3 separate regions of the Homo sapiens genome follow, and all the other regions are linked to region 3. Evidence: fine-mapped expression QTL. A gene starts in region 3. Each other region holds a variant in brackets. All regions are shown on one strand. Distances are from middle to middle. Region 1 has its middle 57 kb from the start of PIWIL1. Region 2 overlaps GLT1D1 (glycosyltransferase 1 domain containing 1). Region 3 holds the start of TMEM132D (transmembrane protein 132D).

What was found.
Region 1: its variant is fine-mapped to the expression of TMEM132D in prostate (GTEx, PIP 0.95).
Region 2: its variant is fine-mapped to the expression of TMEM132D in whole blood (GTEx, PIP 0.94).

The regions. Positions count from the first base shown.
Region 1 is chr12:130,276,767-130,284,946 of GRCh38, reverse strand. No RefSeq gene overlaps it. Among named protein-coding and RNA genes, the nearest start is that of PIWIL1, 57 kb to the left of the region's middle. The variant A/G (reference allele first, on the strand shown) is at 3,452.
Region 2 is chr12:128,973,220-128,981,399 of GRCh38, reverse strand. All of the region lies in intron 11 of GLT1D1 (glycosyltransferase 1 domain containing 1), which reads right to left. Among named protein-coding and RNA genes, the nearest start is that of GLT1D1, 120 kb to the right of the region's middle. RefSeq lists an enhancer at 4,339-4,843. The variant G/T (reference allele first, on the strand shown) is at 4,379.
Region 3 is chr12:129,900,635-129,908,814 of GRCh38, reverse strand. It overlaps TMEM132D (transmembrane protein 132D), which reads left to right and starts at 4,790. Exons shown (of 9, transcript NM_133448.3): 1 at 4,790-5,554. The coding sequence starts at 5,476.

The DNA of each region.
Region 1 (8,180 bases), 380 kb before region 3:
ATTTCCAGCATCCAGAAGTCTCCCCTGAGCCCACCCCGCAGGGGAATCACAAATCCGACCCCGAGACCCTGAGTTCGTTTTGCCTGTTCTCCAATGTCACATAGGTGGAATCGAATACTCTGTGCTCCTTTGAGTCTTCTCCAGGACTGCCTGCTAGGTTCATACACATTGTTGCTTGTATTAGCAGCCCAGTCTTTTAAATAAAGGAAATATTAAAACTTAAAATGAGGAAGACTAACAGAATTCTGATTCTCCCAGTGGTGTCTACTTGGGTGCTGTACTCATCTGTTTTCATGCTGCTGATAAGGACATACTTGAGACTGGGCAATTTACCAAAGAAAAATATTTAATGGACTTATAGTTCCACGTGGCTGGGGAGGCCTCACAATCATGGCGGAAGGCAAGGAGGGGCAAGTCATGTCTTACGTGGACGGTGGCAGGCAAAGAGAGAGCTTGTGCGGGGAAACTCCAGTGTTCAAAACCAAAAGAGAGAGCTTGTGCGGGGAAACTCCAGTTTTCAAAACCATCAGATCTCGTGAGACTTGTTCACTGTCACAAGAACAGCATGGGAAAGACCCGCCCCCATGACTCAATTACCTCCTGCTGGGTTCCTCCCATGATATGTGGGAATTGTGGGAGCTACAATTCAGAATGAGATTTGGGTGGGGACACAGCCAAACTATATCAGGTGCCTTTTTTCAATGTCAAATTTTTTCTTTTCAAATAAATGTATGCATTTGTTGGCACCCCAAGCCTGTGTTTTCTCTGCCTTCAGAGAGGGAGACCTGTCTCCAAAGCCCGCCGGAGTCCAGGATGGTAAACCACAGATGTGGAGTGAATGTCATTCAGATAATGCATGGATCTTTGACTTTTCTGGTTTTTCATCTTTGTTTATGTCAGTGGTTCTCCACTGGGGTCCATTTCTTTTCCCAGGGACAACTGGCAATATCCGGAGATATTACTGGCTGTTACATCTTGGGAGGGTTCCACGGGCATCTCATGGGTAGAGACCAGGTTTGCTCATAGCATGCCACAGAATACAGGAGTGCCCCCACAGCACACAGGAGCCCCCCCACAGCAAAGAATTATGATGCAAAATGTTAGAATGGTGCAAAATGTTGAGAAACCTGGCTTATGCCTTTTATCCATCTCTAATGGATCTCTTTGAACCTCTATCTCTTTGAGCTTGATGTGCACCGAAGTCTGGCTCAAGCCCTGGTCTACCCTGGAAAGCCTCCTCTGAAGGCCGATTGGTGGCTCTTAGCCCCTCCCAATGGGTGAGACAATAAGACCCTTATCATTTACCATGGCCAAGATGCTAAATCAGTAGTTCTCAACCTTTGATGTTCATTAGAACCACCAGGAAGGGGCCCCAGCATCTGAGATTGGTAAAAGTTCTCTAGGTGACTCTAGCGAGGCTGAGGTCAAAAACCAAATCTCTGGCCCTTGCTACTCTAGGCATGGTTGAAAGTGTGGCAGCCCCGTCACCTTGTTCCAAATGCAGAATCTCATCCCCCAACCCGTGCACGCACTTTTGGAACCAGAATCTGCATTTTGACTCCCATGCCCGTCAGACATGGGAAACTCCACGCTGGATGATGTAGCCCTGCCTCTCTCCAGCCTCACCCTCAGCCCTCTTCCAGCCTATTCCCAGCCTCAGCCATCCTCCCTGGGGCTTCAGTGCCATCTTCCCAGAGGTGCTGCCATATCACCCCCACCCGCCCCTCCCACCTCATTGCTCTGTTTGCTCCATAGCTCATGTCACTGTCTGAAATTACACTTTTTTTCTGGGTTTTTTTTTTTTTTTTGAGATGGTGTCTCCCTCTGTCACCCAGGCTGAAGTGCAGTGGTGTGATCTCGGCTCACTGCAACCTCCGCCTCCCAGGTTCAAGTCATTCTTCTGCCTCAGCCTCCTGAGTAGCTGGGACCACAGGCACCTGCCACCGCACTCAGCTAATTTTTGTATCTTTAAGTAGAGACAGGGTTTCACCATGTTGGCCAGGCTGGTCTCAAACTCCTGACCTCAAGTGATCTGCCCGCCTCGGCCTCCCAGAGTGCTGCGATTACAGATGAGAGCCCCCGCGCCCGGCCTGAAATTACATTTTTATTTGTTTGCGTGTTTGCTTTCTGTCCTCCATCTCCTCCCAGGTAGCCTTCACTATGGCAGAGACTTTGCTTGTCTTAGGAATTATATTCCTAGCATGAAGAATAATTTTGCTGTTTAATTTCTGAATAAATGCTGCTGCAACTCTTTGACATTTAACGATTAATATTCTTTTCTTCTTATAGACCTCGTCTCCCCAACTTGATTAGGATCTTAACTCCAGGAAACATCTTTCTATTGATGGGCGTTGCTCTTGAGTGCCTGGCCTGGAGGCTTCCTGTAGGCAGTAGATACACAATAAGTACGTATGGATGGTGAGCAAGATTTTGTTGATTCAGGTCATTTTTTAAATAGTAAATACATTCAACGACCAATCTTCCACGGTGAGGGAGAGCGTGTGCTGTGACTGAAAGCCACATGTCACCACCAGTCCCATTTGAATACTGATCGTCAGCGCTGTGAACTAAAGCAGAACTAATACTTTTACCTTTCACTCTTCTCCTGACCCCATTTGCCAAGATAAAGATGGAAAGACCCCGGCATTGTCCAGTGGGAGGGAAAAATCAAGCTCCGCAGAACTTTTCTAAATTGGATTAGCATCTCCTGCCGTATGCGCTTATTTATTCAGGGAATTTCCAAGTCAGTGTTGCAGACATGAATGTGGCAGGGGATTGCACGCTTTCAGGATGAAAGTATTTGGGCTTCCTAAGTGCGTCGACGAGAAGAGACCAGTTACCTCACGTTTCTTCTTATTTTATCTTTAGCCTCTAAACATAGCACACAGTAAATCGTCTTGGACATCTAGGGATCCCTTTCTTCAGATGATTATAAAGACTCAGCTGAAATTGTCGTTATCCTTATTTCACGGGGAGGAAAACAGAACTGTTAAGCTCTGCCTCTTGCTGCTGATCAGCCAACTGAAGCCAGGTGGCGGGTGTGGCCCAGGAGGCACGACGACTCCACGGTTCTCCAGCTATGTGGCCATCCCCAAGAATCACACGGTTTCCAGACACTTAAGCGTGTGTTCCATTCCCCACCTTACAGCCCATCTCTCATCTCATCAACGCTTGGAGGAAACAAGGAAAAAATCGGTGCAGGAAGTCCAGAGAAGGAATCTCAACTTTTCACTCTTTGCTCAAGCCCCGGATTACGTCTCTGAACAGCCTGAGCCTTAAACAAGGGTTTAAAACAGCAGAAAGACAGATGGTAAATGCAACCCCGCCCGTTAGGTGCTATTCGAAACACAGATGGTAAATGCAACCCCGCCCGTTAGGTGCTATTCGAAACAAAAACGCCGGGGGTGGGAGGTCTGCCTAGGAAAAAGCCATCCAGGGTGGTGTCCGTTCA[A/G]GGAGCCCCTCCAGAGGGAAGAAAGGGGTGAGAAACTCTGTGAAAAGTGTTTGGGGGTGGGGGGATGAAGAGGCCTTAAAAGGAAGCTGAGCGCTTTGCTGCCTGGCGGTGGCGGTGCGCAGCGGCTCCCCCTGCCGGGGAGTCGATGAATAGCGCTGCAGCGTCAAGCTGGGCCCAGGCTCGGGGGCTGGCAGGCCAGGCTGAGGCAGTGCGCGCGGGGCTCAGCCATTCTAAACGCAAACGAAGGGGGACCCTTTCCACCCAGGCCCAAAGCGGGAGGATTAGAACAGGGAGTTCAAAGCTCTAAAATGGCTTGTTCGTTCTTTCTTTTTTCCTCCCCACCCTCCCCTTTATTTTTTAAAGGGGCCAGAAATATGGCTGGTTATTATCCCAAGTGATTGCTACAAAGAATTTCGAAATTAAAAGATAAGCACGCCGAGGAAGCTCAGTAATTTTCATAAAAGGGGACTTAAAACAGATGTGCCCTCTTTAATCGAAGCATGCTTGAAAAAATAGGAATGCATTTTTAACATAGCAGGGGGAAAATCACATGGCTTCGCATTTGTCCCCTGAGAGTTGCTGTGTGTGGATATCTGTGGGCACGGGGAGATGGTACTAACGCGCTAGGGCAGCCGCAAATGGCGGGTGAACGTGCTTTCATCTTCCTGGCCCTGGGGTAAATGACCAGCCTCTGTGCTCCAGACCTTTTGCTAACTAGATAATTTATTTATTTATTTTTTTAATTTCTTAAACAATCTGCCATCCAAAATGTGACGATGGCATACAAGCAACAGACCATTATTTGCAAGGAAACCCAGATTTTGTCAACAACGTAACCCTTTTCTTCCTCTTTGCAGGAGACGGTTTTTCCGTGTTTTCTTTTTGACAATTTGCACAAAGCAAATTCACTCTTAAACAAGGCTGGTTTGTTTTTATTTCAGGTTGTTGACATGTCAGCCATTCAGCTTTAGCCCCAATTCGTCCGTTCACCAGATGAGGGTAGCTGTGTGTCAATTCTTACCAAAACAGGAGTGTCACGTCTACTCATTTCCTGCATGGTGAGAAGGAAATGAAAGTGCTCGGTCTGAGATTCCCTGAGAAGAGAAACCAAAGACCGTCAGACCAACAACAGTGCTTTTAACCAGTGAAAGAGGCAAACATTGAAGCATATTTAGGAGTAGCAGGGCACTAAAGCCAGCAGTTGCTTGATTCTCTGTTGCCGTTTAGCTGAGCGTGTGTCCCACACTCCCTAGCGGCTTCCCAAGTGATGCAGAGACTATTGGTGGATACTTTTGGTTGTTGTTACTTTAAATGTTTCCTTTTTATTTTCCATAAAAACGATTTAGCTCATCTTTCTCACTGAAAGTAGGCAAATAAAACCCCAACTCCATGCCTTGGCTATAGTAGATAATAAATATCAGCTGACTTTTATTGCTTGAATACTTTTAGAATTATTTCTTTTCTTTTTTTTTTTTTTTTTTTTTGAGATGGAGTGTTGCTCTGTCGCCCAGGCTGGAGCTGGAGTGCAGTGGCACAATCTCTGCTCACTGCAACCTCCACCTTCCAGGTTCAAGCAATTCTGTCTCAGACTCCCAGGAGGCTAGGACGACAGGTGCGTGCCACCATGCCCACCTAATTTCTGTGTTTTTAGTAGAGACCGGGTTTCACCATGTTGGCCAGGCTGGCCTGGAACTCCTGACCTCAGGTGATCCACCTGCCTCAGCCTCCCAAAGTGCTGGGATTACAGGCATGAGCCACCCCGCCCAGCCTCTTTTCCTCTTTTAACTTGGAAATTAGGCTTTTCAAATCCATTTCCACCAGACCTCATAATGAGACATTTTACAATCTCGGGTTTGTGGAGACTTTCTTTGAATCACCTCCTTTCTTCACCTCTTCATCCACACTTCACCTAAAACTGAGCTAAAGAAACAGCAATGGTCAAAGGGAACATAACCTTACCTGGGATGCTTCAGGTCTGTGTTTATTTTGGTTTTACAAGCATTAATTTATTCTCTGGGCATCTAAATTTTTCTATTTTTTATTTTAACATGTAAGTAATTATCCTTAAATAGATACTACATTGACAAGATAGCAAATTTAAAACGTAACAATTTCACCCCAGAACAGTAACAGCTTATGGACTGCCATTCTCATCAGTGGCTAGGCCTACTTCTGGAGATTATTTTCGTCCATATAAGAAGATATGTCTGGGCTGGGCATGGTGGCTCACGCCTGTAATCCCACCACTTTGGGAGGCTGAGGCAGGCGGATCATTTGAGGTCAGGAGTTTGAGACCAGCCTGGCCAACATGGTGAAACCGTGTCTCTCCTAAAAATACAAAAATTAGCCAGGTATGGTGGCACATGCCTGTAATCCCAGCTACCTGAGAGGCTGAGGCAGGAGAATCGCTTGAACCCGGGAGGTGGAGGTTGCAGCGAGCCGAGATCATACCACTGCACTCCAGCCTGGGTGACAGAGTAAGACTCTGTCTTAAAAAAAATAAAAAAGAAGAAGAAGATATGTCTGTCTGTCTGTATATACCATTTAAAAAATTCCTCCAATAGTGGCACACTCTACCACATAAACCTTCACCCTAATTTTGCTCTGCATTAAAAAACTTTTATTTCTATAGGTTATTGGGGAACAGGTGGTATTTGGTTATACAAGTAAGTTCTTTAGTGATTTGTGAGATCTTGGTGTACCCATCACCCAAGCAATATACACTGAATCTGATTTGTAGTGTTTTATCCCTCACTACATTTTTTATCATGCCACACTCTGAAATTATAATTTTTAGGAATTGTTTTGAACATGTAAAAAATATTGCATAGGTGACAGAGGAATTAATGCTCATTGTAAAAAACGTGAACAATATACAGGGTATAAACCCTGGAGGCCTCCCTGCTCTCTCCCTTCCATCCCCACAGCAGGTCTTCTTCCCAAGCGGCTGGTGGTCAACACCCTGCTGTTTATCCATATCCCCCCCTGCGCCTTTTCCTCTCCATTTACTTGGATTTGTGTAAATGTGTCCATAGAGAGCAATCGTCTGTGATTTTTATTTTCTTATGTAATGATTTGTTCTATGGATCATTTCTTGGTGGCGCAGGTGGATCTCACTCCATCTTTTTGCTTAACTTTTATTTTAGGTTCAGGTTGCTAGGCCTCTTTCTGGAGATTAGTGTACGGGTTTGTTATAGAGGTAAACTGATGTCACAGGGTATTGTACGGATTATTTCATCACCCAGAGACTAAGCATAGTACCCTACCCAGTAGTTATTTTTTCTGTTCCTCTCCCTACTCCTACCCTTCACCCTCAGGTAGGCCCTGGTGTCTATTGTTCCCCTCTTTGTGTCCATGAGTTTTCATCATTTAGCTCCCACTTATAAATGAGAACATGTGGTATTTGGTTTTCTGTTCCTGCATGAGTTTGCTTAGGTTAATGGCCTCCAGCTCCATTAATGTTCCTGCAAAGGACATGACCTCATTCTTTTTTATGGCAGCATAGTATTCCATGGTGTATATGCACTGCGTTTTCTCTATCCAGTCTACTGTTGATGGGCATTTAGGTTGATTCCATGTCTTTGCCATTGTGAATCTCACTCCATCTTCCTAATGCCCCAGTGTATTTAGCTATGGGAGATTGTTCTGTTTGGGGACTTGCAAACCAGCATCTAACATTCCCAAGGCAATTACCAAGAGTCACCTGAGTCCAGCTCCTTCCTAATCATGGTTTGTATGTGTATATGTTTGATCATTCCTGTTTAATTCATAGTTAACCAAAATGGTTATTCAGTTCATCTACAATGAAGTAGCAAAAGAGAGCTAGGCATTTCTCTTGGTATTAAGAGTGAATCATTATAGTTGCCATTTATTAAGCAATTATGATGTTCTGGGATTTTTAGCTACATTCTCTTGGTTCCTCACCATAAACCTTCATGATAATATTAATGTCCACATTTTATAGAGGTGGGGGCTGATATGAGGAGTGATTAAGTAGCTATCCTGTGTTGACCCAGCTGGTGACCGGACTTGAGTTCAGGCACCTCTGACATTCCAGTCCAGGCTTTCTTCACCATTATCCAGTGACTCTTAAAATTTTCAGGAAAGAATGTTACTCAATGTCCTTGGGTCGAGTCTTTAGTATTTTAACTCTCACAGTTGAAACACATCTCTTTTTTTGAAAGTTTTTCCTGATATGTAACGTAAGGCTCCCTGCATCCAGCTGAACTCTTCTCAGCAGGGAGAAGGATCAGCTGAGCGTACGACATCATCACAGCCATCACTGTCCATCACGACACCGAGTGTCTTGTACATTCCCTTATCTGCTATGTGGCATACTTGGACTTAACTGCAATTTGACGAACTTCCAGACAGAAGCTGGTCCCGACGGCTAACACTTGCAGTCTACCGAAAATGAGAAGAGGCCCCTCCAGTGTTTTGGGTGGGAGAGGTGCTCACGGAACCCAGGCCACAGCGTTATCCTGGGATGCCTGGCGAGCGGCTAGGAGGAAGTTAAAGTGGCAAACCACGTGCAAGGCAGCACCAGAGAGTGGATGACCAAGAGGCTGGATTTGGGGGCTGGATTCCTGGGCTGTATTTGGGCAAAGGACTTCCAGTCTCTAAGCTGTTTCTCTTACTGCCTTGGAGGTAGTAGAAGGAATTTATGAAGCAGCCAGGTATAGTGAGCTTTTACATATTAAGAAGTTCATCAATATATTCAATTTTGTAG
Region 2 (8,180 bases), 930 kb after region 3:
TGGTCATATCTTTGATTTATCTGACGTGGAGACTTTGGTGGAAACCCAACCCCCTCCTTCCCCGCTCTGCTTACTATTCCTACAGAATGCATGGCCCTTTTACAACCAAATCCTCAATAAAAGAGTTTCTAGGAACAGATTGTGATAAAACACACTCTTCTTTTCTCTCCGCATGGAAAAGTGAACGAAAAAACATAGACTTAAATAAAGCAAGAGAGAGGGGGGTTATGAGTAAGCAACGTCTTGGCTGCTGGCTTAAAACCCTGGATGAGTGGCAGAAAGAAAGGAAAGGAAAACCATTAGCAAAAGCAAAAATCTCTCTTGAATCCTAAGTCACTCCCTGAGGCTCTGGGATTTTCTTCTGGACTAAAAGCTCCTGTGTGGCTGCATCGGGAATCTGCTGGACACGCGCCTGTAGACGTGAGAAATCCATGTGGACACAGACTGTCGTGTGCTTACCAGCGAAGATGGTTTGCAAAGATGGCCACACCCTCTATCCCTGTATGCACATCTCTTTGCGATATGACACTGCCACTGTCCCCGTTGAGTGGGTGTGGTCTATTCCCCACCCCGCCCCCGATGAATCTGACTTGTTCGGGTAATTTGCTTTGACTGACAGGATATATCGGAAGTGATGCCGTCTGCCTTCCACACAAAGCTTCAAAAGCCCTTATAGCTTCCATGCGCCCCGGCCCTGGAGACCACCAGGTAAAGCAAAGCCTGGGCTAGTCTCCTGGGGGAAGGGAGGCCATGTGAACAGGGACACTGAGCAGTGACCAACACCATGAGTGAGGCCGTCTCGGAACATCCAGCTCCAGGCCAGCCGCCAGAAGACTCTTGCTGGACCAGTGGCCCCAGGCCACTCACCAGATCAGCAGAAGCACCACCCCGCGAATCCAGCTCAAACTGCAGACTCGGAAAACTGCAAACAAATCAAATGGCGGTAGTTGTAAGGCACTGACTTTTGGGATTCTTAGTTACACAGTGATGTATAACTGACACTCTTGCCAGGCACTCAGCTCCTCCTCTTCAACAAGAGAACCGTGAATGTTTGAAGTTCTACCCCTTTACAACATGGTCTGGGAAGAAGACCCTGTCTCCACTTCCAAAAGTTGGTCCTGATTTGTCCGAGCCTGTTGTGGGGTCGCAGACACACCCTGGGCTGACCCCAGCCACCCCCACCTGTGACGTGAGTGTGGGTGGACTTGCCTCCAACCAACAGAATATGGCAAAGGTCCCGGGATGTGGCTCCCTCGACAGGGTGGTGTCACACAGGACTTCATCTCAGCAAAGCAGAGCAGGGGACACCCTATGTTGCCAGGCCGTGGGGCAAGAAACCACAAACAGTCCCGACTTATGATGGTTCAGCTTAAGGTTTTTCAGTTTTTCAATGGTGTGAGAGTGAGATGCATTTGGTAGAAACTGTACTTCAGGCACCCATACAACCGTTCTATTTTTACTCTCAGTACAGTAGTTGATAAATTATATGAGATATGCAAAACCGTACTGTAATACAGTCTTTGTGTTGGATGACAGCCCAACTATAGGTTAGTGTAAGTGTTCTGAGCACTGATGAGGTAGGCTGGGCTAAGCCGGGATGCTCCGGAGGTTGGTGTATTAAGTGCATTTTCTCATCTTTTTTTTTTTGAGACAGAGTCTCGCAGTGTTACCCAGGCTGGAGTAGAGTGGTGCAACCACAGCTCACTGCAGCCTCAGCCTCCTGGGCTCAAGAGATCCTCCCACCTCAGCCTCCCAAGTAGCTGGAAATATAGGCACATGCCCCTTATCTGGCTAATTTTTGTATTTTTTCTGGAGACGGGGTTTCACTGTGTTGCCCAGGCTGTTAAGTGCATTTTCAGCTTCCAGTGGGTTTATTGAGATGTAGCCCATCACACATCCAGGGGCATCTGTCCTGGCAGCTTCTAAGAGCTGAGGGTGGCCCCTGGCCAACAACCAGCGAGAGAACAATGGCCTTAGTCCCACAGTCACAAGAAACTGAACCCCGCCACCAACCGTGCCCTAGAGGAGAATGTGGCCCAGCCACCGAGAGGGACTGGTGGGACATGAGGCCCCAAGCCGAGGACCCACCTGGGCTGTGCCCAGAGCCTGGACCTGTAGAAACTGCCAGACAGCAGGCAGGTGTGGCTTCAAGCTGCTGAGTTTGTGGTGATTTGTTACATGCAGTAGAGAATGAACACTGTTACCCTGTTCTCCCCTGCCAACGTTTGACCCAAGTCTGGCCACTGAGATTGTCAGAGGCGTTTGAACCAGAGGAACTCCATCTTGAATAGCAGCTGGGTAAACTGAGGCTGAGACCTGCTGGGCTGCATTCCCAGGAGGCTAAGGCATTCTAAGTCACAGGATGAGATAGGAGGTCGGCACAAGACACAGGTCACAGAGACCTTGCTGATGAAACAGTTTGCAGTAAAGCAGCCAGCGGAAACCCACCAAAACCAAGAGGACGATGAGCATGACCTCCGGTTGTCCTCACTGCTACACTCCCGCCAGCCCCATGACAGTTTACAAATGCTATGGCAACGTCAGGAAATTGCCCTATATGGTCTAAACAGGGGAGACATGAATAATCCACCCCTTGTTTAGCATATCATCAAGAAATACCATAAAAATGGGCAAACAGCGGCCCTCACGGTGCTCTGTCTACGGAGTAGCCATTCTTCTACTCCCTCACTTTCCTAATAAACTCGCTTTCACTTTACGGACTCACCCTGAATTCTTCCTTGCGACAGATCCAAGAACCCTCTCTTGGGGTCTGGATCGGGACCCCTTTCCCGTAACAAGATGGGAGGGAGAGATCAGCAGTCAGTGTCTTCTGGAAAAAGTGGTTTCCTCCTTCTAAGAAGAGAACACTAGGAACGACTGCCCCCTCCAGCCTCTGAGGCCACCCAGGTCGCATGGGGAGCCCGGATCCACTGCAGCAATTCCCACCGACCTCAGGACGATGCCGCACACAGGAAGGCAGGGCCAGACACTCACACGGAGGAGGAGAGCCGTGCCCGCCCTGACATGCCATGCCGGACATCAGCCATGGCTCTGGAATCTGACACCGGGCACCTTATCAAATGCACTGGAGAGCTACACAGCAGGACTTGCAGACCTGAGTGTCCCTGAGGCAGATCCTTCCAGCCCAGGTGCTGCAGGTTTCACACAGGTTTCAGCTGGGAGCTGCGGAAAAGCCGATTGGCTGACAGCCACACACACGCACTGTAACCCCGGAGGAGGGGGTGTCCACTCAGGATCTTCTGCTTGGCTATGCAGTGATCTACTCTTGAAAATTATTTATGAAAATAACTCACAGGCCGGGTGCGGGGACTCATGCCTGTAAACCCAGCATTTTGGGAGGCTGAAGTGGGCAGATTACCTGAGGTCAGGAGTTCCAGACCAACCTGGCCAACATGGTTAAACCCTGTCTCTACCAAAAATACAAAAAAATTAGCTAGTCATGGTGGCACACACCTGTAATCCCAGCTACTCAGGAGGCTGAGGTAGGAGGATCGCTTGAACCTGAGAGGCAGAGGTTGCAGTGAGCTGAGATAGCGCCATTCATTGCACCCCAGCCTGGGCGACAAGAGTGAAACTCTGTTTCAAAAAAAAAAAAAAAAGAAAAAAGAAAAAAGAAAAGAACTCACAAGGCATTATAGAGGGCAGACGCTAAAAACTCAAAGCAAAACCAAGTACAGAAATTCCATCTCTCAAGAGAGTTTAAAACAAGCCTCACCTGTTCCTGATCAGCGGTGGGAAACGCAAATGCCTTCCGGGGCCCAGCAGGTGAAGTGGGAGGTGCACACAGCCACATGGTAAATACAGGCCTATGCTGGTTGCCGCATTTCTTTTCTTTTCCAAGAGAGGTCTAAATTCTGGATATTTATGTAAAAGTGTTCCATGTTAAATATCAACAGGTAATTCAATATTTTAAGAATACAGCAAAGTAAACAAAACACATGTGCAGACCAGATGTAGGTCCAGGGCCACAGGTGTGCCAACGCTGGCTCAGGTAATGCACTTGTGATGTTAAATAATAATAATAATCATGCAAAAGAGCATGGTTTTGTCTTTAGAGAGTAATTACTCAATTAGTTGATGACCGTCCTCAGAGCTTCTTCCTTTCTGAGGAGTCTGGAGCTGCTGGTGGAGCATTTCTCATTGAATCCTTTTGACCTGCTCCATCCCCCTGAGGTTTCACCAAGATCCAGAGGAAAAGAAGTGGTGGCCATTTTGTTTTCTTGTTTTGCTTTTGAGATGGAGTCTCTCTCTGTCGCCCAGGCTGGAGTGCAGCGGCGCGATCTCGGCTCACTGCAACCTCTGCCTCCCGGGGTCAAGCGATTCACCTGCCTCAGCCTCCCAAGCAGCTGGGATTACA[G/T]GCTTGTGCCACCACGCCCGACTAATTTTTGTTTTTTCAGTAGAGACAGGGTTTTGCCATGTTGGCTAGGCTGGTCTTGAACTCCTGGCCTCAAGTGATCCACCTTCATTGGTCTCCCAAAGTGCTGGGATTACAGGTGTGAGCCACTGCGCCCAGCCAGTACCCATTTTATAAAATGAATATTAGAACCTCATTACAATCCTTCTCATGATGATGTCACCTCAAAGCCATAGAACAGAAGGGGAAAAAAACTCCTCCACGAGAAGCAAAAGCCTTGAGCAGGATGCATGCTGGGGCTGGCAGATTTAAAACGTTACGGTTTTAAAGAGCATTACATTCTGACAACCTTCAGCAAGTGATATATACTTATTTTTCCAAGATGAGCTACAGTCAATCACAGGAAAACTCTTGAATTTCAGGCTTGGTGTGTTAAACTAAACAGCCCCGAAGCTCCTCTCCCGCTGCTTCAAATACGACAGCTTGTCGATGGGAGACGTTGACGAGGAAGTGTCTCAAGGCTGGCGCAGGCCGCCGTCGTTAAAGATCTCGGGTTTTCCTCGGGCTTTTCTGGTTGGAGGCTTTGAGTTAATTAAGGCTTCGACGGTGGCTTTGCTTCTCAAACCTTGCTGTAAGACTCTCTAAGGGAGCTTGTAAAACACACACGCCCCACATACCCGCCCTCAGTCCCCGAGATACTGATTGGGTGGGTGGAGGGTGGGGTTCAGGAATGAGCGTTTTCTAACAGTGTCCAACAGCGCCCCCAGGGGATTGCAGGAAGCCTGACAGGTCTAAGGCAACCTGCCGTGCCTGCCTCATTTTCCAAAAATTATTTGGTCATGGGACAGATTTATTTTGTTGAAAACTGCAAGTTGTGAGGCTCCTCCTTCAAGACCTCAATGCCTAGAAGAGGAACGTGCATCTGACTGTGGTACTTTTCTTGTACACGGCACCATCCCTCTGGTCACATTTTATGGCACTATCCAAACTGTCAAACTGTCGCCGCTGACGACACATCAATGTGACCATGTCATCACCCCGACTGCCAGCGTACGTTGATTGTTCTCCCAGTAGCTCCTGCATCGGGTAAAGTCAGGACCATGCAAAAGAACACGAAGCTCTTCTCTAAACTCTTCAGCATGAACCTTCCACCCACCTCTTAAAACACAGAGTAGTCATTGATTTATAGGAGAATTGAAGTTATTTCACCCTGAACATCATGGTTACAGTTAGGGGCTCACTTTAAAATAAGTATCAAAAACAGCCATTAGGGGGCCGGGAGCTGTGGCTCACACATGTAATCTCTGCACTTTGGGAGCCCAAGGCGGGTGGATCACTTGAGGTCAGGAGTTCAAGCCCAGCCTGGCCAACATGGTGAAACCCTGTCTCTACTAAAAAACACAAAAATCAGCCTGGCGTGGTGGCACGCGCCTGTAGTCCCAGCTACTCCAGAGGCTGAGGCAGGATGATTGCTTGAACCAGGGACCTGGAGGTTGCAGTGAGCTGAGATAGCGCCACTGCACTCCAGCTTGGGTGACAGAGTGAGACCCCGTCTCAAAAGAAAAAAATAAAAAACAAAAAAACAGCTATGGGAATCTTCTGCAGATGGAAACTGAGCAAGCCAACTGGGTAGGGTCAGAAATAACCTCTCAGTCAATGAGCCCTGTGCATAGCAATTACTCAATACAGAGCCAGAGGACAAGGTGGTAGGGTGGGGACTCTGACCCCTACTCACGATGCTTGACTTCCCCCCGCCCCCAGTCATGATGCCTGAGTCTGACGTCCATTCCAAGACTGACCCCCAGTGAATCTGCCAGTGGGCCCTGTGTAAGCACGCTGAGCCAGGGAGGCTCCGTGCTCAGACCCTTTGCCGGGACAATGCCTGAGCGTGTATCTAACAGGCCACCCACAGACATGGTGGGTGCTCAGGAGTGACGGAGCGTGGGAGTCTGTAGCATGAGGAAGGAGGTTTGCAGGTGCAGGTGCGGGGGGGCACTAAACAAAGGAAAGCCAGCAGGTGAGAAAGCTAATTCCCATCCGATTCATCTTCACTGCTGGTGGAGGGGAGAACAGCCTCAATGAGGGGCAAATGCTTCTTTCTTCAACACTTCTTTAGCGAAGAGAGAGCTGGCCTCTGGCCAAGGGCCTCCAGTGGAGGTCAGGATCCAGCCAGAAATTAACAACAGCAGCCAACATGCATCCAGTGCTCAAAAACGTACACGGAATGAGGCTTCAGAATTCAGGACCTGGGGGATTTTAGTAATTCAGCTGCTATAGCCTTCTATTACATATCATCTCCAGCGAGGTCTAAGGCCATGCCCATCAACAACAGATCAGTGTTTCTTAATCAAAATGTATGAATAGTCCCGTGACGCAGGACAAACAGCCCTAGGTGACTTCACATCAGTTCAGACAGGAGTTTTGGCACCAAACTCACGAAAAAGAGTGGTCTTATGGATGGTGAGACAGTAAAACTCCTCTTTCCCTTCTGGCGTTTGCACAGCAGAGGTCGATTGTGCTGGTCAAAGGACAGCTGTTATTTGAGGAGGGAAAACAGTGCAAGACCTGGGTAGCTAACAGCAGGGTCACTGACCGTCGGAGAACCTGTGTTTTATTCCTGCCATTCCCGGGGCTCTGTGGCTCATGAAATGCACGATGCAGGGTTAGTGTGGCTCAAAGGCATTGCTGTGGCTGGGGTAGGAGGGAGCAAGAGCCCTTGCCATCTGTGAGCCGGGTGGGTCCGTAGATGTCCGTGTGAACAAGGACTCCGGCCATCAGCCAGGTACCTGCTAGTAAAAACGCACAGAGCTGGCAGGTGGGTCCCGACTGCATGTTTTCCAAGCGCTTTTTGGATTTTGAAATTGCAGAAAAGGAACTAGGAATTTGGACTATTCCTATGCGCCCTCTCCCCCTCCACACGCACAGATCAAGAGATGGGAGCCCAGGTCACCTGGGAACCTGCCTGAGGTTAACACATCACTGAGTGGCAGAAAAGGCATCTAGACCCAGACTGTCCCCCTCTGAGCACCGCTGCTGCATGTGGTGTGGAGCACAGATCACCAAGCGCCCCCCCCACACACACACACCCTACACACACACACACACCCCCTACACACACCCCCTACACACACACCCCCTACACACACACACGGGAAACCTGGGAGCCACCGATGAAGCTAAAAACAACTTCAGGAATATTTTCTGTGCTTCTCATTCGCTCACTTTCCAGACGATGGGCCGAGTAGAACACTAGCCATTTCAACACACACCCGGCTGGCTGAAAGGTGCTTCTGCTGCTCTGGTGTGCTTTGGGGGTTGGTGGGGAGAAGGTGGGCATCTTGAAGGAAAGAAGAAGGTGAGAGGCAGAAAAGGGAGGGAAGAGGGGGACCGGGAGACCTTCCTCTGGGCTTGTGTGACGGCTTGGCGGGTTAGAGCAGGAGGAAGTTGGAGGGAAAGAGCAGCCCATTAAAGTGCGGCGGTAAATCTGCCATTCGTTCTGGTTATGCCTGGGGGAGAGGAAAGAAACACAAGCAGGCTGGGGTGGTGGCTCACGCTTGTCATCCCAACACTCTGGGAGGCCGAGGTGGGTGGATCACTTGAGGTCAGGAGTTCAAGACCAGCCTGGCCAACACAGTGAAACCCCGTCTCTACAAAAATACAAAAAAAAAAAAAAAAATAGCCAGGTGTGGTGGCACATGCCTGTAATCCCAGCTACTGGGGAGGCTGAGGCAGGAGAATTGCTTGAACCCAGGAGGCGGAGGTTACAATGAGCCAATATCGTGTCACTGGACTCCAGCCCGGGCAA
Region 3 (8,180 bases):
AATAAGTATTGAATGGAAGGAGGAATCCATATAAATCCCATTCCTCAGACTGCTCCAGCCCAGGAGGACCCTCTCTTGGAACCGATGATACTTGTTCTCTGCAATATTCTTTGAAGACCCTAAGAGATCGAATTCCAGCTCTCCAAGGGCATCCTTTGCCTTCTCCCTGGTGCCTGGTAGAGGGGACAGAGCACCTCATGCGTCCAAGAGATCGAATTCCAGCTCTCCAAGGGCATCCTTTGCCTTTTCCCTAGTTCCTGGTACAGGGGACAGAGCACCTCATGCATTCATTAGCTGGTGGTGGTTGGTGGTTCCTCCCTCCTTTGGACTCTCTTCATACTGTAAAATGGGCCAAAGCTTCGCTGTAGTCTCAGGAGCTGATAGAGGTGTTTCCTTATATCCCACTCCTGCTTCTGTTGGCAGTGATGAGATCAATACACCCTGTATTGCCTGGAATGGTTCATTCTAACAAACAAAGCCCTGAACCTCCATGACTTAACACCATGTCATCTTATTTCTTGCTCACCCAAAATTCCATGCAAAAGAAGTGGCATTCCACATTTTCGGAACCAGACTCATTCCAACTTGCAACTCTGCCATTGCTGAAGGCTTGGGGGTTCTCCCTTGAATTTTTGCATTCAGCTTGAAAAGGCAGGAAGAGAGTTTGAGGGTTTCACAGGCTCCCAAACTCTCCCCCTGAAAGGGAGGCACATCCCTTCCTCCCAGGTTCTTTTGGACATAACCATAGCGACAGTTAACCTTAGGAAGGCCAGGGCATGTGGTCTGGCTGTGTCTCCAGCAGGTAGAGGAAGCAGGGGTGAGGGAACATGCTTCTGTCACAGGTTCCAGTGCATGCAAAATCCAGGCAGTCTTTACAACAAAGGGTTTCCTGCAGAGGCAGCCTTGCAGCTTCTCCTTGACCTCACCCCTGACCGAGAAACACTCAGGGACTAATCAGGCTAGAGGTACAAATACATAATTTGTACCAAGAAGTCCAGCATGTGACTTCAAAGAAGACTATTCAAGGCCTGCTGACCTTTCTGTATTGATCCATAAATCAGTAACTTAAGGAAAATGCAGCAGTATCCTATTGGTCTTTGCAGAAGAGGCTGCTCTGCGAGGTTCACCTGGCAGTTACCTGGTGACACCATGGGTCACCTGGGAGAGCACGAATATTCCAACTTTTTAACATCTGCTTGTGGAGCTCTGGGAAGAGATGAGAAAGGGAGAAGGACAGAGAGAGGAGAGTAAAAGTAGGTCTGGATTTTAGTATGGTTAACCTGGAAGAACCAAGAAGTTTGATGATTTAACACAATAAAAATTAATTTCTTTTACCATACTTCTTAATGTGGATTGACGGGGGACTTTGCTCTCTCATCAACTTGCTGGACTGCTGGCTGGAAGGCTCACCTTGTAGCAGCTGCACCATCTCAAACACAGGGTCCACTCTTCTCCCAGGGCAGGGCAGGTGCAGAATGAGGAGTCACAGGTGAGCTTTTCACTGCCCCACCAGAGAAATGACCCCCATGACTTCTGCTCACATTTAGTTGGTCAACTGCAAGGGGCTGAGAAGAGTAGTCATCCATGCGCTGGGAAGGAGAGAGTGACAGGTCTTGGCAAACACACACCTTCCTCAAGGGCACAGCATGGATTCCGCTGAGGTGCTCCTTCTGGAAGGATGATCTCCTGCTGGCCTTACCAGGAAGGGTGTGCAATGTTCCCAGTGTTTACAGTGCCCTCAACATCAGAAGGCTTTCCCCACTAGTGAAAGAGACAGTTGATTGAACCAGGCCTTTCTATTTCCCAGTCATTTCATGAATTTTGGAAAACTGGGAAGACAGGGAGTTTCAAAAAGTCTCTTCTGCATCTTCAGGAGGGATTGATCTGGTAGCTCTCACTTCATGCTAAGGTTTCCCAAACTTCATTTCTCACCATCTTCCGGAGTATTGTCATAGAGAGAAGACGGTGCCTGCACCCGTGTCAGTAGTGATTGCTAAATCCATTACTCATTTCCCATCTTCATAAACATACATAACTTGATATTTTTTAAACAAAATGCATCACCAAGTAAAAGGAGAGAAAACAAAAATAATAATAATCAAAATAAAAACAAATCGATGTTAGTAACTTGAGCTAGATGTTGTCATTGTGCAGAAAGAGCTTCCTTTTTTGTTTAAAAAACATGGACATTTGCAATTACTAAAAGGCTGTTCCGGAGTAGCTCAGGCCTGAGCCTTTCTCCTGGATGCAGTCAGAAGGACTGGAAGAGAATGGCTTCAGTTTTACAGGAGGCCCCATCTTTAGAGGGCCTGAAAGTGTCCTCTCATCCACCAGTGGCATAGCCCCTGCAGTACTTGAATTCCAGCTCCTTTCTGCCTTTATCAACGCTCAAAGTTGCCATTTCTCAAAAACTGCTACAGGGAATGTTTTTGTTTTATTGAAAAATAACAACAAAAACTGCTTAGTGTAAAAGCCTCATCCACACAGCATGAACAATTAGTGCAATTTAATTACCGACAAAATTAGGCTTACAGCTTGATTTATGGCCCCGCAGATGAAACACATATTCTTGGAGGAAAGCAGATTTCTTACAAGTAACTTGAGAGAGACAAGGCAGGCGATTTTGATGGGAAGTTGTCCTGGGGCAGGGGCTGGAGTTAGGGACCTATGAGCCCTCAGTGTCCATCTCCAAGTCTAAGTTTTGCTTCCCCACAATTAGCTGTGTTAATTACCCAAAGAAGATTAGATGTACCAGGGAGAATGGCATACTGGAGAGAGAAAAAGTAAGAAGCCATTCTTGCATCTTATTTTAGCCACTGATTAGGTATCTGAAGTTGCATCTTCCCAAAAAATCTTCCATACCAAAGAGTGGAAAAAACTTTTGTTTCGCCAACTACGCATAATGAAGAAACCGTTTAACATTTTAGGCAGCAGCTGGAACTTGACAGTCACCTTTTGTCTTCACATTACAGATAGAGAAACCTTCTGCAATGGCAAAAAGAAAAGTTATTTGATGATTGCAATTCAGGGGAAAAACTCAATTTGATTTAGAGAAACATAAAATGATTGTTTTTAATAAAGAACAGGGACCACTTGTTTCTAGTCAATATGTCTGAGAAATGTCTTACAAATAGACTCAGTGTCACAAATAGATGATTTACAAATAGACTCAGACCCACTGTAGCGTTAAGGATGGAACCTGGATTATGCATTCAGTGCGGGCATCAATTTTGACACTCAGAGACCAGGTGAAGGTGTCCAAGAGACGAAAGCTCAGCTCTCTCATCACTCAGGTGAAGGAGAAAGGGGACCAGTGGTTCCAGCACGTGTTCCGCAGGCCGGCAGCATCAGCATCACCTGGAACTTTTTAGGAACGGAGATCGGAAGTCCCACCTTGACCTGCCGAGATAGCTCTGGGGTGGGCCCAGCAACCCAGGTCTAACAAATTTTCCAGTGACTCTCCTGCTGGTTCAAACTTCAGAAACAGTGAAAGAGACAATCTCTTAGGGTCTTTGCAGCGTCGACTCTTAGGAATTTTACAGGAGAGCAATACAAAGAGAAAAGGCAACAAGTTTAAGAAACAAACAAAAGAAAAAACAGAAAGACAGATATATTCAGATAAGTAGATACAGAATAAAAGACAAGAGCACATCTCAAAGGACATGAACCCAGAAAAACAATCTTCGGTAGAACAGCAGTGGCTTTTTTGATCTTCCTTGAAACTTTGAAAGCTAAAAACTCTTAAAGCATTGGTATATTTCTGCAACTACAGGCATACAGGATAAAAAAGTCCATTGCCCCCTCAGTCAGATGATAACGACCCATTTTTATCTACTGAGGTGAATTCACCTCATTAGATTCAGGGCTTGTTGGTTTACAATATTCCTTAAAAATTCTGAATGCTTTTCTTCCCTCTGAGCTTTGATGGGGTTAATTTAAAGGCTCTCGTGGAGCAAAGCAGTTCTTGGGCTACAAATTACAGGACGGTGCTTAGGGATCTTGGTGTGGGAATGTCTTAGTTGGAGATTCCGGGCGGTGTTGAGAATCATGTCTTTTATCTTCTCAAAGCAATGTTGTCTCCTAATGGATCCATTTCCTTTCCCAGTGAGCCCTGGGGAGCACACGACATGTTTCTAGGGACACTAACTTGGGGGATCGCTCTGGGAAGGGGCTTGGGGCCAGCATGACCTCAGTGTGGCGTGTCAGAGACTTCCTCACTGCGATCCCTGGGAGATGCGCAGGGCGGGGCGAGGGCCCTTCTCCAGCCATCCTTGCGCTCTCCCTGGCGAAGAGCCTCAGGTGCCCCCGGGCTGGAGGACCTCCCCTGGGCCTGAGGTTTTGATGACGACGAGAGGCCGGTGGCCAGCTGGACACCTGTTGGGAGAGTGGGTGGCTCCGTCCCCGGGGTGCGCCCGCGCTGGGAGCCCTCGCCCGCCGCCACCGCGCGTCCGCGCTCGCAGGGAGGGTGGCCGGGAGGCTGGGCGTGGGGCGGCCAGGGGGAGGTGGGATTTACTTTGCGGATTGGGGCTCACAGCTGTCACTCCGAAAGGGTGGGGCTTTTTAAAAGCAGACAAATTTTTAAGGCGAAAGCCCCAGCCGGCTCCGGGCACCGTGGCGATCGCCTCCGTTCCGTTCCGGATGCGGTCCTTGCGGAGCGGAGCCCCCGCGCCTGCTGGCAGGAGGCAGCTGCGTTGCTCGGCCGCGTCCCCGAGCCGGCGGGCCCTCCTCCGCGCACATCTGGCCCGCCTCCCCCGGGCGCAGGGGGGAGCCCCGCGTCTCCGGAGCCTGCAGTGCGCTCGGCGCGCGTAGAGCCCCGCGAGCCCCAGCCGGGCCCGGGGCCGGGCGGGCCGAGGCGGCGGCCGGGGAGCAGCCGCACCCGCCAAACTTTGGGTGCCGGAGCGCGCGCGCGCCCGAGCCCCGAGGCGCAGCGGCCGGCCTGGGATGGGGGCTGCGGGCCAGGGAGCCCCGGGCCGCCCAGCGAGCCCGGCCACCCGCCCGGGGGGCTCCGAGCCGCCTCTGCCCGCGTCCCGGGCTCCGCAGCCCCGCCACCCCGGCGCCGCCTGCGCCAGCGCCCGCTAGCCAGCCCGGGAGCAGCTGGAGCCGCCGGAGCCCTGCGCCTGGAGGCGCCCCTCCTTGGGCCACCGGGGGCCACTCTTCGCTCGGGTAAACAGGAAAGGAAATACCCCCTGTGGATTAAAATTTAAAAAAAATTCTGTTGGGGTCGAAGGAGGGAGGTGGGGTTTGCCTGCGCGCGTGTTGGACTCCGGAGAGCAACTCAGGAGCCCGCGCGGTCGTCGCCTCCCGGCCTGGCCATGGACTGGCGGGAAGAGGGAGCAGGGCGCCCGGGCTGCTCGGGCCCCTAGCCGGGCGCTCCCTCGCCACCGGCCCCGCTGCGGGCCTCTAGGGGACTGAGACGGTCTCTTGTTCGCCTGGACGGCGCCGGGGAGCGGAGGATCTGCGCTCCGGGTCTCCAGGATGTGCCCGTCTGAGATGGGGACGCTGTGGCACCACTGGTCGCCGGTACTCATCAGCCTGGCCGCCCTGTTTTCCAAAGGTGAGGACGCCGCGGCCGCCAGGGCCCGGGGACTAACTTCGCCTGGAGTGAGTGTGTGGGAGTGTGTGGAGGATGGGGGCGGCCGGGAGAGAGGGCTCGTGTGCAAGTGTGTGTGCGCGCTTGTGTGCATGTGTGTGTGCGCGCGTGTGAACGTGCGCTCGTGCGGCAGCCAAGCTCCTCGGACGCCCCTTGGCCGAAGGTGCTTGTCCTGGAGCACTTGGGTGGGAGGCCTTAGGTGAGACTACTAAGGAGCCGAAAGGAAAGGAAGGCTGTTTCCTGAAAGCCTTTTCTGTAAAGGGAGAGGGCGTGGGGACCCTTGAGAGGAAAGGTGGCCTCTGGAGGGCCGAGCCGGCTGTCGGGGGAGGAGGGGATTGAGATGACCAGGGAGATTTCTGGAATTTGGGATTGACTTTCCCTGGTGGCACTGACCTATTTGGAAATAATTTTGGAGCACTCCTGTTGTATGGGAATACTATTTTGTGTATTATAGGCTGCCAAAAATATAGCCTGGGGGGCGGCTCTGAAGAAGGGGGATGGGTTTCTCCAGGTCTGCCGCTGTGAGGTTTGGGCACAGGGTCTGGCGCTCACCCTTCCGTAGGGTGCTGGGAGCAGCAGCGGCCCCGCAGGGTGCACGTGGAGTTTCAGCTACAAGTTGTGACCCGAATTTTCCCAGCGGAGCCCTGACTTGAAGCCATGTGTCAAGGCAGGAATTCCTCAATGTTTCCTCTTCTCTTCTGCCAGCATCCCTGTCTGTCATGGGAAGAGCAAGTTTGGAAGCTCTGGACAGTCATTCTTCCTTGAAGAGAAATGGTGTGATTTGTGCGGGAGATTCTTTCTCATGATTGACCTGGGCTGCTTGTGTGTGGTTCCCCCACCCGTGCCCCTTTCCTGCAGATAGATACACTGGGAGGAGAGTGAAGCGTCTCAGCAGTCTCTAATACGTGCTGCAAGAACCCTGTACCCATATTTTTCTGCAAAGATTTTTGAGATGAGATCTCTCTCAGAAACTTCAAAGCCAATTATCACGCACAAAGTCTTTTAATTACATGAATTGTCTGTTCTCTGAGTTCTTCCAGAATCACTGAGGTTATGTTGCTTTGGATCTGATAATAGATGAAGACAGTTGAAATGCCGAGTTCTGTGATGGTTCGATTTAGAAAGAGGAATTTACGTTCCCCCTCCTTCCCTGTCTTTGAAGTGTGGTTGAAATGGGCTCACGTTTCCTAATTATGAGTTAGAACAATCCCTGGGATCAGAGCCTTCTGGATTTATAATGTGCACAGGAAACCAAAGAAAAGGTTGATGAATTCAGTGAACCTGACTCAGGCAGACGTGAGGTTAAAAAAACCAAAATCCACAGCAACAACAGCCCAGCATTTTTTTTTTGGGGCGGGGGGGGTTGGTTCTCACTTGGTTTTATAATAGGTCCAGACTTCTTTGTGTTTATGCTGCAATAACAAGGTTGTATTAAGAAAGGTACAGAATAGCTTTGGAAATAGGACCTCACTATTGTGTTTTTTCACTTAGGTACATAGGTCTGTTACTGATTTCTTTATTAGACTGAGCAGTGTTGAAGAGAATTGTATTTAGCCTAATACTTGTGAACTTTTTCAACTGGGAACACTGAACATGTCCTTAAATGAGGTCCTGTGTGATGTGGAAGCCTCTTTACTAGGTGGCCAAAAATTAGCACGTAAAATGTTTACGATAAGCCTAGCATATGACATATTTTGTGTATTGAACTTAAGCAAGTCAGCCAGACAGTTCAAAAGTGAATCAGTTCTGTGTGGAGACTTTGTACAGCAATTAGCAGAGTCTGAGCACATGGTAGATGATTCAGGATTAGTCACAATATGTCAAAGAACAAGAAAAAAATCAACACCCCTATTAGCAAATTGCATAAAATGGAATTTCATGATGCAGATGTGATTTATACATTCAGGGACAGGGCCATTCTTTTCCCAATGTGTTCATATCACCTCCCTCTAAGATTCTCTGATCACTTGAAAGTTCTCACCCATCTTGCAATCAAGTATGGACTATATTGAAAAGGATTTTAATTGAAAGTAAACACACAGACACACACACATACACACATACCCCAAAGTGCCTCATTTGTCTGGGGCTGATTGAAAAAGAATATTATCAAGTATTAAATATCTGTTTCCACATATTATCATTTCTACTGTATTGTCTTTCCAAATAGGAATTTTTGAATGAAACAAAGGGCAGATTTTAATACCAGGTTAATATGCTTGAGCCTTACACGTTTATATTTCATAAGCAGAAAATGATTAGTTATAGAACAAACCCACCCTCTTGTAGATATTTTTTAAAAACAAATAAACATAAAGTTTTGTTGCTTGTATTTCTATGCCCCTGGGACCTAGGAAGTATGGTATGACACACGGAGTTTCCCCAGCAGCCTTGTCCTATGGCCCCTAATTTTTCTGGGGAATGGCCTTAAATGTTTAAGGTCTAGCTTTGCTGGCAGCTTGATGTAGTTTGCAATGGTGCTAGCCTGCAGATGAGCTTTAATGCATTACTGTGAACTTTATGGGAGGGGGCAGGTGTATGGAGGGTGGGCTGAGAGGAAAAATGGGTGAGGAGATTGGAGTTGGGCAGA